2 linked regions of the Homo sapiens genome follow. The protein of the gene in region 2 purifies or fractionates together with the protein of the main gene of each other region. This does not show direct contact. Each region holds a gene or a part of one and is shown on either strand. Other genes may lie near its edges.

What was found.
Region 1: the proteins of FGD1 (region 2) and SH3PXD2A purify together in Homo sapiens (affinity purification with mass spectrometry; 3 studies listed by BioGRID and IntAct, with this or other methods). This does not show direct contact.

What each region holds. Positions count from the first base shown.
Region 1 is NC_000010.11:103,851,949-103,861,327, forward strand, and holds the start of SH3PXD2A (SH3 and PX domain-containing protein 2A), read right to left. Parts: upstream 3,629-9,379; 5' UTR 3,319-3,628; coding exon 3,247-3,318; intron 1-3,246. UniProt on the Homo sapiens protein: Adapter protein involved in invadopodia and podosome formation, extracellular matrix degradation and invasiveness of some cancer cells. Binds matrix metalloproteinases (ADAMs), NADPH oxidases (NOXs) and phosphoinositides.
Region 2 is NC_000023.11:54,492,240-54,500,919, reverse strand, and holds the start of FGD1 (FYVE, RhoGEF and PH domain-containing protein 1), read left to right. Parts: upstream 1-4,685; 5' UTR 4,686-5,487; coding exon 5,488-5,794; intron 5,795-8,680. UniProt on the Homo sapiens protein: Activates CDC42, a member of the Ras-like family of Rho- and Rac proteins, by exchanging bound GDP for free GTP. Plays a role in regulating the actin cytoskeleton and cell shape.

The sequences.
Region 1 (9,379 bases), on a different chromosome or scaffold from region 2:
TGCCTGTGAGCACAAAGAACCCGGTGGACCTGAATTCAAATCTTTACTGAAAAACTTTCAAACGAAGGAATCTGCATTCTGCATCCAGCATCATCAGGACCATTTTCAAGACAAGCGGTCAGAGGCCAAAGCCAGTTTACCTAGGGTCTCCCCAGGCACAGCTCAGAAAGCCAGGAAAGGAGCCTAGCTTCATGCCAGGGAGCCTGACCTTAGTAGCAGCTGCCTGCCCTTCTCAACCCCACCCCAAGCAGGGGCCTGGCAGAGAAGAAGGAAGCCAGGGCTGAGTGCCATCCCCATGATGGAAGCTACTTGCGTGCCTTCATGAACTGACCGAAAGCACAGGACCCTTCGTGTTCAGGCAGCTCCCCCTCCCCGTGGGGATGAGCAAACCCTTTGCAGAATGTCCTGAGAGAACCTTTGCAGTGTGTTCCCAGCACTCTGGAGCCAGCAGAGCTCCTCCTGCGTGGGCCCCAGGCCTCTCATCGGCTAGCTCTGGCTAACACGCACATCCCGTAAAACCTCTCTGCTCTGCAATTTACCAAACCACAGACTCAGAATTCACCATCAGCAGAGGAAAGGCTGGAAGGAGGCTTGCTCCTCCAGTGTAGAGGGTTTCCAGAACACAGGCAATGGGTGCAGCACGTCCTGCCAGCTGACCACACCAGAGGGCCTTACTCACAACACTTGAGCTTTTGGTGTGTGGTATTCACCGTGCAAGGGCCAGGAGAGGAAGAGGCTGCAGCCTCCCCAAACCCGCTCCTCCTGCCCCTGTCTGTCCCACCAGGCCCTTTCTATTGCTTTCTTTCCCCCTTTCAATTATTGGATATGCTTATGTTATGTATTAATATATACAATGCCCCAAATGGGTAGAAACTTTTTGACCACCAGTTATTTGTCCTCTTAGCCAAACCCAACTGGACTTAGGGTACATGCAATGAAAAAAACCCAGCTGTGAGCAGCTGTGTTGCAAGTTACTTTACCCAATCTGGCTCTCCATTTCCTCATCTGTAAAATGAAGGAGTTGAGCCAGATGAGTCTTCGGGTCTCTGCCCGTTCCACAATTCCACAACATGTAACACTTTCTCCTCTCAGTGTTTTCCAGAACTCTAGTTCAGAACTCTGCATGGCCCCATCTGTTCAGTGACATCACTCCCTGCCCCCCCAAACATAATGTCATCGATTCTTACTCGGGAAGCGGAGATGTCCCGGGAAACACTTTGTCTGTAAAAAGGAAGGAAATGATCATTTCGAGGGAACTGGACAGGACTTCTTTTGTGTTTTTCACATAGAACAAGTTATTATCAATCTTAAAACCCAAAATCTTTCTTCCTTTTTGCCAGACCATTAATAGCTGCTTTTCAAAAATACTTTCTTAGTCAGAATCTCACCAATAATAAGCTACCATTTAATAAGAGCTTACTGCGTGCCAGGAACTGGGCTAAGTGCTTTACATAGATGATCTCATTTAATTCTCCCAACAAGTACATACTATTATTATCCTTACTTGAAATTGAGTAAACTGAGGCTGGGGGAGGTTTAAATAACTTGCCAAGGTGGCACAGCTAGTTACTGGCTGCATGCCAGGCTTTGAGCAAGACCGTCTAACTTCAGAACCCCAGCACGCAATCTTGCCTTTCAATCCTGTCTGCAGTGGGCCCCGGTTCTAGTTTGTTACCAGTGTGTCCTGCATCTGCAACCTTGGGCACCATCGGTGGGAGCTGAAATGTGATGTTTCATTTAAAATCCAGAGTTGGAAACGCACCTGCCTGGGTCTCAGAGCAGAGTGCCATCTGTTGAATGCAGTGCCAAGCTCAGCTGAGGACTACAAATGAGAACCCTTAAAACTTAGCCTGCAACATTTGAGAAAAATAAACCCTGGGATATACAAAGGGACATCTGTCCACAGAGCAGGTTGACCACCTGGTGACCCAAGCCCTCCAAAAAGAGCTTTCTTGTAACAGCAGCAGAAAATGCTTGCTGGACCAGATGACACAAAAGAAACAACTCTCTAAGGGTGTCAGGGACTGGACCCGACAGGCACCCACCTCCCTGCCTAGTCAACCTGCCTCCACATTTACCTCCTCCCCATATGAGCCCAGCCGCATTTGCTCAGCTGTAAAGAAACTCAAAGTTCAGAGCTACACTGGTGACAAAGGCAAAAAGAGTAGCCCGAGGCTGACATTGCCACAAACCCCAGTCCCTTTGCAACAGTGGAAGAAAAGGCACTTCAGAGATCAATGTACAATCCAGGGCAGCAACCAGCGCCTGTTTTAACTGTTAAGATTAATGCTTTGAGCACTGGAACTGCTCCTCTAAATACCCAATTTGCAAATAACATGCAGTCCTCTGTGCTTGGGTCTCTTCTATCTCAAGTACAGGAGCACAGACGCTCAGAGGGGTCAAGGACACCGTGTTTACTTCCTAAGGTGTGAGGGATGGGAAGACAGGACCGGCTGAGATGAAAGGGGAACTGTCACATAGGCTCTGGAGCTGCCCCAGTCAACCTTAACCCCTTCTCATTAAAGTTTGGGGGAGGAAGGGGGAGGGGCGGTTCCTCGGAGACCACAGCAAACATTCGCCTCCTCGTGTCTGGAGATGGAGCATCACTTAAGAGGAAATGAACCCGGTTAAGGGTCACGTCCAGAGGAGGGATAAAAGGAAAAGCCACAATTCTCCTCACACCGACGGACACAATGGCTTTATGAGGGAAATCAAAGCTTAGCGCGGAGGGTGGAGGTTGGGCAAGGGGGCGGCGGCTTCCTTCTGCCCCCAGCCCCAGGCCTAGGAAGGCAGAGACAGAGCTGGCGTGGGAGGCAGGGCGCGAGGCTTCCTTCTCCAGGGCGAGCTCTGAAAGCATCTCGGGCTGTGTGAGCGTGAGCGCCCAGGGCCCCTGGGGAGGGCCGAGGAGATGCGCTTTCCCGACGGGGCTGCTCTGTGAGGGGTTGACGAAAGCTCCCCCCACCATCCATCAAAGGCGGACAGATGACTTCACCGTTGTAACAGACAAGGGCAGCCACTTGCCAATTCCAATGCCAAAAAAAGAAACCGGGGGGGCGGGGGTGCGAAGGAGGAAGGACAGAAGAGGCTTCCCTGGAGATCACAGCCCTGCGAAGAAACTCCACGGCTGCTGGCTGCCCAGTGGGCGCTTAGCTTCGCGACCTCACAGCTGGGAGGGGCAAGGGGCCATCCGGGGCCCTCCCGGGACCTCGGGCCACCCCCAGCAGGGTCGGCGGGGGCTGTACTCACGTAGTGCTTGGAGGGGTTCCTCCGCTTCTCCACGTCCACCACGGTGGCATCCTGCACGCAGTAGGCGAGCATCTTCCCCCACAAAGCGAGTGGCGCCCCCGGCGGCGTCACCTTCTCATCCCGGCCGGGCTCCGGCTCCTTCTCCAGCTGCCGGGGTCCCGGGGCCGCCCGCCACCCCGGCCCGGCGCGCCGAACGCTGCCCGGACTCCCGGCGCCCACAGGTCCGGCCCAGGGACGGGGGAGGGTCCCGGAGGGCGCGCGGGCTCCGTGCGCCCCGGGGGACTCCCCGCCGGCCTGCCGCGCGCCCCTTCACTCCCGCGCGGCCGCCGCGCTGCGCTCGCCCGCTCGCTCTCTCCGCCGCCCGGTGGGTCCGGCGGGAACTGGCGGAGCAGAGGAGGGGCGGGGGTGTGTCCCGTCGGCGAGGGGACGGGGCGGGGGCCCCGGAGCCTGCTGTCAGCGTCCTGGGGAGGGGCCGGCGGCTCCCCTTCGCCGCTCTCCGGCTCGGGCTCCGGGGGGATCGGCGCTGGCGGAGGCTGTGGGCGCAGGAGGCGGAGGCAGGGCCTGGCAGGCAGGGAAGGGAAGGGAGGGAGGGGAGAGAGGGGAAGCGCGCGGGGAGGGGCTCCGGGCCGGGGGAGGGGCTCGGGGCGACGGGGAGGGGGCTGCAGCCCGGCCCCAGTGGCAGGGGCGGGCCGACGAGCCCCCACCCGAGCCCAGCGCGCAGCCAGCGGCCTGGCGCAGCACCGGGCTAGTTCGCTAGGCACAAAAACTCAGGGTGGCTTCGGGGGGAGAGGGAGCGGGGAAAGTGAGCCCCGCGCGCCCCCATCCTGGCTTTCCGCCTCGGAGCGGATTTGTGCCTTTTTGTCCCCACTTTTATGTCCCCCTACAACTTCCACCCCCAGATCTCTTTAATGAGAAGTAGTTTATTACCCGGCTGTTACTGCCCAGGCCCCCGAGGAGGAGATGGGAATGGGGAAAAGGCCAGCTTTAAATCCTTCAAGCCAGAGCCTCTTTGGACGAACCACCTGACCCTCTGCAGGTCATAAAGGGTGAATTCTCCCCGGAAAAGTGATCGATTCGTTGCCTGAGTCGTCCATCGATCTGGGCTTGTGTAACTACCCTGTGCATCATTTACCAATGACAACGTTACAGACTCTGCATAACACCACTGCCTTAAGCCCAGGGCTCCCCTGGGGACCCTCCCCAAGCTGGCGACAGGGAAAGGAGCATACAATGGTGGGAAAACCCACCCGGTTGGAGGCCAGCTCACCGTGAGCCCCAGGCTCTGGCATTCTCACCCCTCCCTCTAGTCTGGAAAACCCACTTTCCAAGCCACTTGTCCGTGGTCCCTGGACTTGGAGCACAGTTACTACTTAATTCAATGTAGCTTCCCCCCTTCTAGTTCAACATTTTTTTCCCATTCTGCTTTCAAACATTTAAAGGGTAGTGTTTTCACAACTACTCCAGTTGTTACACAATCACAATAAAGCTTTGTGACTGTGGACCAATGTGAAACATCTGAAAAGAGGACAAATAATTTTGTGACCTAATTGCATTAATACTTTCTTCTGCGCGTTCTCTAGACTGTCAGAACCCAGGCACAGATCTAAGGCTTTATTTATTCACATATTTGCTCCATACAGAGTAACCCACTATTCCTCCAACCTTCCTGGGGAAGGGCGCTAGGACACCAAACGATGGCACGGGACAAAGAAAAAAAAAGATGGATGGGCCTAGGGGGCTCAGACTGTGAGAGATCTTGGCACCAGGCCAGAGCTTCTTGGTCAGAGAAGATGACAGAAAACCTTTGTGAATGTTGGAGCAGGAGTCCTGGGGGAAGGTGCACCTGGTAATGTTGCTCAGCTGATGGGAAAATGGGAGGACAGGGCACTACCTCCATGAGCAAGGATTATTCCCTGAAGGGATGAGAGGTAGACCTGGAACGGGCCCTCCATATTGAGCTCCCGAACTTGGGAGGGTGCTGGCCAGCTCCAGGTCCTCTCTGATGATGGATCAAGACAGCCTGTGAGTTTGTGAGGAAGAGATTCATCATGGCTCTCGGATAACTCGTCTTCTGTGGATGGCAAAGTCTTCTGGAAGTGCTAATAAAACCTGAGAAGCCACCAGCGAGGGGAGCTGGTGTTTAGCTGTTGTGGGGGGAAGAAGAGGAGGGGGTTTAGTTTGATTTGGGTCCCCTTGTGAATCAAAGCAGTCAGCTCATCTAAAACAGCACTAGTGGTTTCCTTATTACCCTTCTTTCGGACCCAGATCCACAATGAACACACCAAGCACAATAAATTTGTAGGAGAGAGGGCCCAGTTCTTCCCCACTTCCTAGCGGCCTACAAAGTGGTAGCCTTTCTCCTGCCTAAAAGACTCCCTGCAACTTGACATTTTATAAATTCAGGCCTTTAAGCCTGACTTGAGCATACTCCCAACTTCCCCCTTTGTTCCGTAATTACCTTTATTGGAGGGAGCAACTGAGTGCTCCCCACTCAACCCCATGGTGCCAAGATCTGGGCAGAAGTTATTTCTACCTGTGGGAGAAAAATGTCTTTTCTGTACTGGGGCCGTATGTCCAAGGGGATTTAAGTATGAAATGGTGCAGGCTATCTCTTCTCTGGGTACATTTCAACCTCATGCAGATTTATTTCCCACAGTGCCTTGGGAATTCCTTTCTGTTCAATACACATTTATTGAATGCCTCACATGTGCCTGGCAATCCCCCAAAAATGACAGAGACTGGGGGAAGTTTCCTTGGAAACAAGGACTGTGCATCATTCATTAAATACCCCAACTATGCGTGGCACACAGTAGGTATATAGGATGGCCTGTGTTGAAAACATCTGCTCAAAGAGCTAGTGCTAGAAAGGATTAGAGAAACCCCTATTTTGCCACCTCCGCCCATGAACTGGAGATGACTCCAACCTAAGGACATTGTGTGAGTTAAAAATGACAAAATATAATTGCAAATTTTTTTTTAAGTTTAGGATAAGTAAGGGAAAGAGAAGCCAACATAAAGATGCAAACTGATACCTGAAAATCTGATTTTCGAAAACAGGTAATTGTAGAATGCTTAGAATCAAAGAACTTTCCAACTAGAAGGGACAAGAGAGGTTATTTATTTCTCTTATTTTACAGAGGAAGAAACCAAGGCCAAGAAAAACTAAGCAAGTTGCTTGATGCCACATAGCCAGTTAGTCCAAAGCCCGCTGTCTTTCCCCTCCACATTTATGTGCCTATACTAGGGCAAGAAGAGCTTGTTTAAAGGGCACACTTAGCACACCTGCAGGTCTAGAATGTTGCATTCACTCAAACCCTGGAGTCCCTGGTTCCAGTTCTCCATTCACACAAGCATATGAACTCGTGATGCCTGGACTTCCCAATAAAGAGGACTGTACAATCCTCTAGAGCAGAGGCCGTGTGTGTCTCCATGGTCCTCTGTGTACGTGCAAATTCCATCAGCTCCCCTAAAGCAGAACCCGCCCTACCTCCTCTCCCATGTAGGGTCTTTGTGACCACCCCCAAAGAAGACAACATGCAGGAAAGTACTGGAAACCACAGTGGGCTATATGAAAGCACAAGAGAACCTTCTCTTCCTCTTCAGAAATCGAATGACAATTGCTAATCATACATTTGTTTACTAATCATACATCACCCTATGACAGCTCAGCCTTCACTGTATTGAACCTTATTTATATCTTTTATTGTTATTTAACTTTCCTGTGCTTTAGGTTGTGCCTTCTAAACCAGTAAGAAGCCTTTGAAGGCCTTGAGGACCATGAACTTAGACATGGACACCACCCTTTCCCTCCCCACCCCCATCATCCAGCACCTCTGTCACCTGCCACACACACCTGCCCACCCAGCGCAGAGCTTTATACATGCCAGGCCCTCAATAAATGGTTGTCTTTTTAAATTACTGGGATCTCAGCAGATATTTGTAGATAATGCTGGGGCTAAGTAATGCCTAAGAAGAAGAAGAATTGGAGTCTCAGAGCAGGAATTACCCAACCTGGGTTCTACTCCTGGCTTAACCACAAACCAGCCTGTGACCTTGAAGTTCTTTCCCACGTCTGGGTCTCTGGTGCTCTTTCTGGCCCTTTCCATGCTGTACAGTGGTGGATAACTTACATAAACTGAGGTCTAGCAAGACTCTCCCCGAGTTGTGTAAATTTGAGTGAAATTTGGGGCCCTCTTCTGGCCAAAGTGGTTTTAGCACTTTTACCTCCTGCCACAGGGACAGGCAGGAGGGCCTGGGACGAATAACCTGCCCTTCTACAGACTGTAAGCGGTCCAGCGCTCATGCTTCTGTCTCTGCTTCTTCTCATCCTCCTCCTCCTTTTTCTTCTCCCCCACTCCCTTTCTCTCTCAAATCAGCCCTGATATATTTATTGACTTATGTTTGGGGAGTGTCTTGAGGACGGTCCCACCGGAGTGTGGAGCAGACAGCAAGGCCAACTGCCCAGGGAAGTAAATTGCTTGTCAGGCTTCTCCTCTCCTTGCTGGGGAACAGGACCAGGATATGGCCCCAGAACTGCCCTACCACCCAGCCCCACTGTTCACGAATTTTAGCCATACTAACAGGCCCCTCCTGTTGCCAAACTACCAGATGGTGGAAGCCGCCTCCGTCTGACACCCAGCACAGTAAGTTCATCAGCAAAATCTCAACATGCTTCTTTACACGGTCCCTTGAGAGTCTCACTCTCCTGTCTTAGCCTGGATTCCGGTGAGGGTCCGTGTGCAGCAGCAGGTTTTGATAGAACCACTTGAAATTCCAGCCTTAGCAAGTGGTCACGCCCTGGAATACCAGAGGGAAATCCGGGAACTTGCACAGCCAAAGAGGCCAAGGGCATAATTAGATTCACAGAGGAAAACAATATTATTCCATAACTCCAGGCTGCATCCCTAACCCTGACCAGACATCTGGCCCCCAAACTAGTGCATTGTGTTTTAAGACCTTCAGGAACGAGTGTGGGTGGTTTCATACAGTCTATCTCAACAATTGAACACACCTTGACGTGTATTCCTGGCTGGGAGGGGGTTGCCAGCATCATCTGGGTATAAAAGATCAGCCTGTATAGTTCTGTTTTAGTGATAAACCACCACAGATTTTCTTTTTCAAAATCCCCTGGATTTTCCAGAATCCAGCAAACCCTGAGTTGGCCTCTGGAAGACAAAAAGAATAGAAAAGAAAAATACCAGGGGGAATTCAAAGGCAGTTTCTTTAAAAATAGCCTGAAGCCACAAATAACCAAAAATATGAATCTGGTTTTGGTTTTATCCTGTCTTTTTTTTTTCAATTCTCTATTCAGAAATGGCATAGAAATTACTGTTCTTTGTCCTGTTTGAATCCACACGTCTCTTTCAGGTGAAAGATTCAAGACTCTCAAAGTCAAGTCCAGCTTCAGCTCAAGCCCTGCCCTATCTAAAGCAGAAGATACCCCTCTAGTTTGTTCTTTTCTTACCCAATAGGTGAGAGACAGAAAGCCTTAGCAGGCTGGCTTTTGCCTACATGGGTGAATCTGGCTGGGATTTGGATGGTCATCAACAAGGTATTGCCCTAGGCAGATTGCTATGATCTTACCTCCTAACATATGAATAGTGTATGTCTTAGTTAAGACTCGTTGGTTTACAAATACTAAAAATTGAGCTAAGCTAGCTTGGAAACGGGGAGGGGGCTTATTTCCAATATATAGTAGCGTCTCATGGAATCCACACACATCCTGGCTTCTTGAAATAGTAGAACCACGAAGTATCAAATCTTCAAGAACATGAGCAATAATAATTTTCTTCATCCCTTATCTCTGCTTAGCACTGTGTGCCTGATTTACTTTTTTGACTGCAGACTTTTTCTCGTTTCTTCACTCATGTAGCAGGAGGCCCCCACAACACGTAAGTGTCTACCAATCTCTCAATTCCAGACACACCTGAAGACTCGCTGGCTGCCTCTGGAGTCCAGTTCCCCCAGTTTGCTGGGGAAAAAGAATCTGATTGGCCCAGCTTGGGTCATGCATCCACCCTGTCCAGTCAATTACCATGGGCTGGAGTTCTGTGAATTTGATCATAAACCAACACATTTGTTTAGGGAATCAATTCAAAGAATGAGGGCCACATTGGGGCCCCTTCAAGTTACT
Region 2 (8,680 bases):
GTCTCAATCTCCTGACCTCGTGATCCGCCCGCCTCGGCCTCCCAAAGTGCTGGGATTACAGGCGTGAGCCACCGCGCCCGGAGCTCTTTACTTCTTTTTCAGTCTCTGCCAACTCCTGCTCCTTCACTCAACCTGTAAAGTTGAAGTTCCTCAAAGCTCAATCATGGATCCTCTTCCTTTCTCAGTCTTTACTGTTTCAGGGTGATTTTTTTCTACTCTTGACTTTTAATGCCATCTCTATGCTGACAACTCTAACTTATATCTGAAACAGACTTCTCCCCTGGGATGTATATACCACTATCTACTTGACTTCTCCACTTGGATATCTCAAGGGCATGTCCAGCTTAGCATATCCAAAACTGAACTCTTGATCTTCCCCTGAAAATCTGTTCCTCTTTCTGTCTTCCTCATCTCAGTGAGTGACTGGCCTACCATCACCAGATCCCTTGGAGTTCCCCCCTTGATTGGAATGGAATCCCTTGATTCCCCCCTCCCCCTCCTTCTCCCAAGCTTTCACACCAAGCCTTCTCAATTCTAAATATCTCTCAAATCAGTCTGCCTCTCTCCATCTCCACTGCCACCTCCTTAGTCAGCTCACCATCATCTCTGGCCGCAGTAGGTTCCTAATCTTGTCCACCTGCAATTCAATCTAGAGCAACCAAAGTCATCTTTGTAAAACGTTAAATATACCCTGTGAATCTCAAGCTTAAAACCTTTCAATGTGTATTTCAGCATTTTGGGGATGTGAGGTATCTGCAAAAGAGATACTATTTCCTCGGGATCCAGTTCACATACGATACAAACTGAAGCATTTCATGAAACATATTTACCCTTCCTACATGATCCTATGATACACTCTTTTTATTAATTAATTTATTTATTTGTTGTGTATGTGAGATGGAGTCTTGCTCTGTCGCCCAGGCTGGAGTGCAGTAGCACGATCTCGCCTCACTGCAACCTCCATCTCCCGGGTTCAAGCCATTCTCCTGCCTCAGCCACTCGAGTAGCTGGGATTACAGGCACGCTCCACCACACTCGGCTAATTTTTGTATTTTTAGTAGACGGGATTTCACCATATTGGTCAGGCTGGCCTCAAACTCCTGACCTCAGGTGATCCACCCACCTCGGCCTCCCAAAGTGCTGGGATTACAGGCGTGAGCCACCATGCCCAGCCCATTCTTATATTTTCTATTCTTAAATTGATTTCAGTACCTTCTCCAGTTTGACCCACATTTAAAAGCACTGCTTCAATACCTTTTCATTGCTTGTAGAATAAAACCCATTCTTCTTAACATGGCCTAAAAAGCCCTGCATAATCTAGCTCCTGCCTACCTTTTGAATCTCATATCCCACCCCTCTTGCCTTCCAAGCACTATGCTTTAGCCATATTAGCCTTCTATAGCTCCTAAATAGGCCATTTCTCTTTCTCCCCAGGGCCTTCCTACTTGCTGTATCCTTTGCCTGGAGCACTTTTGTGTCCACTCATCTGCCAACTCCCACTCCTTCAGGGCTCAGCTTAAATAGCAGCCCTTGCCTGACCCCTCAGGCTAAATCACACCCCCCCACACACACATACCCGTTATTCTCTTTCCTATCACCCTGTTCTGTCCCTTTATAACCTTATCACAATTTGTAATTATGTGTGTTTATGTGTTGTAATTATGTGTTTATTTCACATCCTCTCCAGTACCAGCCAATGAACTCTGAGGACAGTTTTTTCACCATTGTCTTGTTCATGTCTGTCTTATTCACTGCTGCATAGCTAGTGCATCACATGGTGCCTGGCCCATAGTTTGTGTTCAAAAGACATTCGTTGAATGAGCTGAGATCTGAAGAACAAATGAAGTGGAATTGGGGAGATGCAGAGAAAGTTTCACTCAGCGAGAACAGCATATGCAAAAACTTGGAGGCTAGAGAGACTAAGGAATAGTCTAAGAATTTCAGCACGGAAAGGCTGGCAGGGGCACAGATCATGAAGGGCCATTTAACCTTTCCTGTTAAGGAAGGTGGGTTTCATTTTGAGCCAGTAGAGACTCACTGAAGGGTCCTAAACATGGGAGTGATATAATTTGATTTAACTTTTATTTAATTATATATATATATATATATATTTTTTTTTTTTTTTTTTTTTTTGAGACGAGTCTCGCTCTGTCGCCCAGGCTGGAAGCAGCATGATCTTGGCTCACTGCAACCTCCGCCTCCCGGGTTCAAGCAATTCTCTGCCTCAGCCTCCCAAGTAGCTGGGATTACAGGCATCCGCCCCCATGCCCGGCTAATTTTTGTATTTTTGGTAGAGATGGGGTTTCACCATTTTGGCCAGGCTGATCTCGAACTCCTGACCTGAAGTGATCCACCCACCTCGGCTTACCAAAGTGCTGGTATTACAGGTGTGAGCCACCGCACCCGGCCTTATTTATGTTTTCAAAAGATATACACTGCCTATAGTGTAGAGAATAGATTCCAGAGAACAAGACTGAAATAGGGAGGCTGTGACAGTATTGCAGGTTAGAAATGGTTCTGGTCTAAACCAGGGTAGTGGCCCCAGAAATGTAGAGACTACATAAATAGATTTGGTAGGAGGTCAAAATGATGGGACTTGGTGACTGCATGGGTGATGGAGGAGAGAAAAGAATTAAGGGTGTAACCCGGGTTTCTGCTTTGACTGGGGTCATTCACTAAGGTAAGACACAAAGAAGGACAAACAGGTTGGAAGGAGGATGCCTTGAGTTGGGAAGAAGCTGAGGTTTTAGGTGTCTCTGGGATATTCAGGTAGAGCTGCCTAATAACCAGTTGAATGCATGGGTCAGGAGAAATATCTGGTTTTGAGGTATCAATTTGGGAGTCATCAGCAAAGATATGATCATTGAAGCCAGGGGAGCAAATGAGATAAAGAAAAGAGCGGCCTGTAATCCGAGGCTTCTCTTTCCTCAAGTGGATCACTTGAGGTCAGTAGTTGGAGACCTGCCTGGCCAATATGGCAAAACCCCGTCTCTACTAAAAATACAAAAATTATTCGGGCTTGGTGGTGCATGCCTGTAATGCCAGCTACTTGGGAGGCTGAGGCAGAAGAATAGCTTGAACCCGGTAGGCGGAAGTTGCAGTGAGCCTAGATCGCGCCACTGCACTCCAGCCTAGGCGACAGAGCAAGACTCTGTCTCAGAAAGAAAGAAAGAAAAAAAAATCACATGTAGAGAGAGGACAAGAGCGCTCAGGCCAAAGCCCTGAAGAGCACCAGCATAAAGCGTTGGACAAAGAGGAGCCTGGAAAGTAAAAAAAGAATTACTAAGGAAGTAGAAGAAAAACAAGGAAAGTGCAGTGTCATGGAAGTGGTTTAAGGAGGAGGGAGTGGTCAACAGTGCCAAATGCTATCAAGAAACCAAGTAGGATAACCTCTGAAAAGATTCTATGGGGGCTGGGCGCGGTGGCTGACGCCTGTAATCCCAGCACTTTGGGAGACAGAGGCCGGCGAATTACAAGGTTAGAAGTTCGAGACAAGCCTGGCCAGTATGGTGAAACCCCGTCTCTACTAAAAATACAAAAAAATAGCTGGGCGTAGCTACTCGGGAGGCTGAGGCAGAAGAATCGCTTGAACCCAGGAGGCGGAGATTGTAGTGAGCCGAGATCGTGCCGCTGCATTCCAGCCTGGGCGACAGAGTGAGACTCTTGTCTCAAAAAAAAAAAAAAAGAAAAGATTCTATGGGATTTAGTGAGATGTTTCATGGCAGACCCTGATGAGAGAGAGCAGTTTCAAGCAAGTAGTGGAGGCAGATTGGAGTGGGTTGAAAGATAAGTGGGAGGTGGGAAAATGAAGACAGTTGGGTGTAGGCAACTCTTTTGAGAAGTTTGTAGAAGAGAAGAGAAGGAGGTGGTTGGAGAGGCAGAATTCTTGGTAATTGTTTATTTGTTTTTAGATGGAAGAGGTCTATGTTTAGATGCTGTTGGGAAGGAGCAAGGACAAATTCCTAGGCTTCGTAGCAAAAAGTCAAGAGCTTCCTCTACGGTGGCTCTGTTTACTCTCTGCAGCAGGTCAGGTTATTTGCTGAGGGTTACAGGGCAGATGGAGCACTTGGGGTTTGAGGGGAAAGGAGAAGGTTTGAAATGGTCACTGTGGAGAACAGAGGGAGAGCTGACTAGTAGGGTTGTGGGTCAAAACTGAGGGCCTGGTAGAAGCTGGGAACCATGGGTTTATAGTGGCACAAATCTGTGAAGTTGAATAGTTTTCCCCAGCAATGTTTAGCTGCCTGGGCGCAGGCATGGAAAAGGCGGACAGTTGGACCGATTCAAGACTGGGATGTTGCCAGGCGGATGCGACAAATCAGGGAACTGAGGGTATTTAAGAAAGTGACTAAGTAAGGGACCAAGATATCTGGTCTGAGCAAAGTGAAGGAGAATCAGAGACAGGTCCTCTATGAGCCAAGCCCTAGGAACACTCAGGAACATGAAGAAAGGGTTTTGGAAAAGAGAGTGAACGGCAAGCAGAGGGGGGAAGACCTGAGATGGGATGGAAGGGCAGATATGGGGGGAGGGGGTTGAGCCCGGAGACTTGCCTGTGGGGAAAGCAGGCTGAGGGGGAATTTTTTAAGGGGCAGGAGGGCCTTGAGAGCGGTAGCAGCGAGAAGTGAGGCGGCCCCGAGCGAGGGGGCGTGGTCAGGCGCAAATCCCGGGCGAGGGGGCGGGGCCCCGGTAACTGGGTCCCAGTGCCGCTGTGGCTGCGGCTGCCTCTGCGAGGCTCCCGCCTCCCCACCCCCCTTCCCAGGGCTCCTTCCCGCCCGCCGCCGCCGAGACCCAGGCTGAAGCTGGGGAGGACGGTGGAGCCCGGCCCAGGCCGTTCTCCTGCCCCCGCGGCTGGAGCATCGTCTGGGACTACTGGCTGAAGGCGAGCCCCGCAGCCCAAGCGCAGCGCACACGCGCGCCCCCGGCCACCGCCGTTCTCTCTTCCCTCCCCTCCTCTCCCCTCCCCTCTCCTCCGCCCCCGGCCTCGGCTGCGGCGGGAGGAAGAACGCTTCCCAACCAGCCAGGAGAGCCCAGATCTATTCCCATTCGGGGAGAAAGAAGAGACCCCGCACTTGGATCCGACCGACTTCTCGCCCCGGGGCCACGGAAGTGGCTCGCCGTCCACCGGAGAGTCCCCGCCGAGCGTAGCCCTCCAACCCTCGCCCAACCGCAGCCGCATAGACAGCGCTCCCCAGCGGGCCCCCGGCCCCGCCGAGCCCACTCCCCGCGCGGGGCCGGGGCCGGGGCCGGCGATGCCTGGCACGGCAGCGGCGGTGGCCGCGGCTGCTGCTGCTGCTACTGCCACCGCTGCCACGGCTGCTGGCCCGGGCCCGGGCTGGGGGCTTGAGTCTCTGCAGTGGGGCTGAGCCCGCAGTCCCGCCCCCCGATCCTGAGGCCGCTGCTCCGCCGGGCGCCGGGCCTCCTCCGCCCGCGCCTCCGCCCCAGGAGCTGGAGCCAAGCGGGGAGCTCGGGCCCCGCGCCCAGGCCCGGACCATGCATGGCCACCGAGCCCCGGGGGGCGCCGGGCCTTCGGAGCCCGAACACCCGGCCACGAACCCGCCGGGCGCCGCTCCGCCGGCCTGTGCCGACTCGGACCCTGGAGCCTCGGAACCCGGACTGCTGGCGCGCAGGGGCTCAGGTTCGGCTCTTGGCGGCCCACTGGATCCCCAGTTTGTCGGACCCTCGGACACCAGCCTGGGCGCTGCTCCAGGCCACCGGGTCTTGCCCTGCGGTCCCAGTCCACAGCACCACCGGGCCCTGCGCTTCTCTTACCACCTGGAGGGCTCGCAGCCTCGGCCTGGTGAGTGAGCGACTGAGAGAGCATGGGAGCCCGGGCCACGGGCCTGGTACTGGGAGCGGGTTCTTGTTCTCGAGCCCTCTAAGCCCCACCTCGGAACAGGCTCGCTTACCTCGGCCCTTTGGGTTCCCTCAAACCCCTCCTCCTCCCCACGTCCCTTGGCCTTATGTCCAGTCCTTTCAACCTCTGTCCCCATCTCCTCTCTCTGTCCCTTGTGCCCCTCAACCTCTCCAACCCCCTTCTCCTCTGTCTGCTGAGGCTAATGGGAGAGGGAGCACTCGCGAGAAAAAGAGGGAGGATTGCAAGGCAGCAATCCTTGGATATTTGGTTGGGGAAACCAGGGTTTCGTTTGGAGAACAGAAGAAAAAAAGGAGCCTTACATTTGCCAAGCGCCTACATTGTACCAGGCACTGGACTGGGTGCTTTACATGGATTTTCATTTCAGCTTCAGGAACCCTCATGAAGTAGATACCATTAGTCCCATTTTGTAGGGAAGGAAACTGAAGCTCAGAGAAGTTAAGCAACTTGCCCAAGGTCACACAGCTAGTATGGAGCCACGATTCAAACCAGATCTGTTTGTGTCCAAAGTCTGTGGTCTTTCTGCTTCCCCAAACTGAGGCTGGAGACCATGAAAGTAATGCCAAGCCTTCTGCTTATGTGATTTTCTCCTGTACTATTCAGCAGCCCTGGAGTATGAGCGGAAAAAAAAAAAAAAAAAAAAAAAAAGAAAGACGGTGGATTGATCCAAGGTTGAGATTTTGCCAGGTGTGTGTGGCGGGAGAACAAGGGAAGGAAGGAGTAGAAGGTGCTGAGAGAGAAAGGTGGAAGAGGTGGGCCTTGGGAGTCAGGCTAGAGGAGAAGGCTGGAGGGGCTGATAGGTAGGGAGACAGCAGAAAAGCCAACAGAGGCAGAAGCCAGTTGTAGCAGGAGCTGGAGAGCTGCAGGTCCACGAGGTTGGTTGTGATGTGAAATCAGGATGGTTTCTTGGATTTGAAAAGGTGGAGCAGCTTTAAGTCAGGCTGAGGCCACAGACCACTGCCTTTGTGCTACACAGACCTGAGTGTCTGAGGAGCACAGCAGGACCTTCCCCATCTGGGGACATTCTCATACGGGCCTGAGCCCAGGAGCCACAGAAGAAGAGCAGCGCACATCTGCCCTGCCTTCCACTGGGACTGAAGGAGTTGTTAAGCCCTTGGGGGCTCCCGGGTTCACACCTCAGGCTCCACAGATCTCTGGGACCGTGGCCTTGCACCAGGTAGCAGTAGTGAAGTATAAAGCATGGGTAGGATGTGCCTTTTGGTGCCTTCATGACCTTGGGCTAGTCATGGAACCTCTGGGAGATTTCAGGGGGCTCCCTCAGTGTGGGCTGAAGATAACCAGCTGGCAACAGGCCCTTAACACCTTGGCCTGCATGTTACTTCTGCTGGCTTTCCAAACTCCCCTTGACACTGTGTAAAGCCAGTGCCTTTTTGCAGCTGCCAAAACAGGCCACAAGCACTCCCACCCCAGGACTTTTGCATTGGCTTTTCCTTCTGGCTGGAAGCTCTTCCCCTAGCCCTCCACCTGGCTTGCTCCTCGTCTTGCATGTCTCAGGTCAAATGTCACCTCTTCCAAGAGACTGTCCCTAACCACTTTAGGTAGGGCCACTTGTGAGTCTCCATCAGAGACTGTGAGTGTGCTTCCATCTTTGCACTTAGTACAATCTGAAATTATCTTATTGTATGTGTCTACTCGTTTATTGCCTATCTTCCTCTACTAGAATGTGAGCTCCATGGGGGCAAGGCGATTATATCTCTTTTGCTCACTGTTGTATCCCCAGCAACTAGCGCAGTGCCTAACACGCAGTAGGTGTTCAAGAAATCCTCATTAAATAAATGCCTAAACAGATACTAAAGAAGCACATAGTAGGCCCTCAGTAACTATTGCCTAAAAGAAGGACACCAAATTCCTGCCCTCTGGATACTCTTGATCTGAAAGTCAGTAGCTGGGCAATGTCTAGACCCCCAGTCTCTGGCCTCTGTAATCAATACAAGGTGATGATTCTGAGTATGCCTTCCCAATCCACCAATTCATTCAAATTACAAATCATAATACCCTTCCTAAACCACTCTCCTCCTCCCCAAAAAGGCAACACAGAGTTCCCAGGATCCTTTTCCCCAACGAAGTCCTTGCCTCTGTAATTGCATAGTGGGTGTCTTTTTTTTTTTTTTTTTTGATTCAAGATGGGGATTAGGAATAAGACAAGTGTCAGGGAAGGACCTGGCCTCCTATTCTAACTAATTCACTTTGTGACCCTGGGTGAGTGACTTTTCTTCTCTGAACCTCAGTTTCTTCATCTAGAGAATGCAATGAGGAGTCTATGAATTAATGGTTGTAAAGCCTGCAGCATGGTATAAATCCTCAGCAACCAGGAGTTTAAAAAAATAAAATTAAGTTAAAAAATAAGAGAAAAACCTTCTGAAGAAGAGGCGGAGGAATTACTCAGGCCCTGACTAGGCGGGCGCCGGGCCATGTGATTCACTGCAGCATGGGTTGTGAGAGGCCACCTCCCCCACTGCCCAGCCGGCCCAGGGGTAGGCACAAGTGACTTGGCTTCTCTCTCCATGGGACTCGCCTATAATTGGCCCTAAGAGGGCAGGGTTAGTGGTTGTAGGGTGTGTGTGTAAGAGAGAGACAGAGAGGGTTTCCTGAGCTTCAATTAAAGGGCTGAAACATGCTGGTCCACATGTTAAGATTTCTGTGTGCCTGCTGACTTCCTCCCTAACACTGCTGAGACCTTTATTGAATCACCATCTTTAGGGCTCAGTGGCTCATCCTGGGGGTGGGGGGAGGCTTTTAAAAATAATAATTGTATCTTAGCCATGTGAACAGCCTTGAATTGCTTCAAAG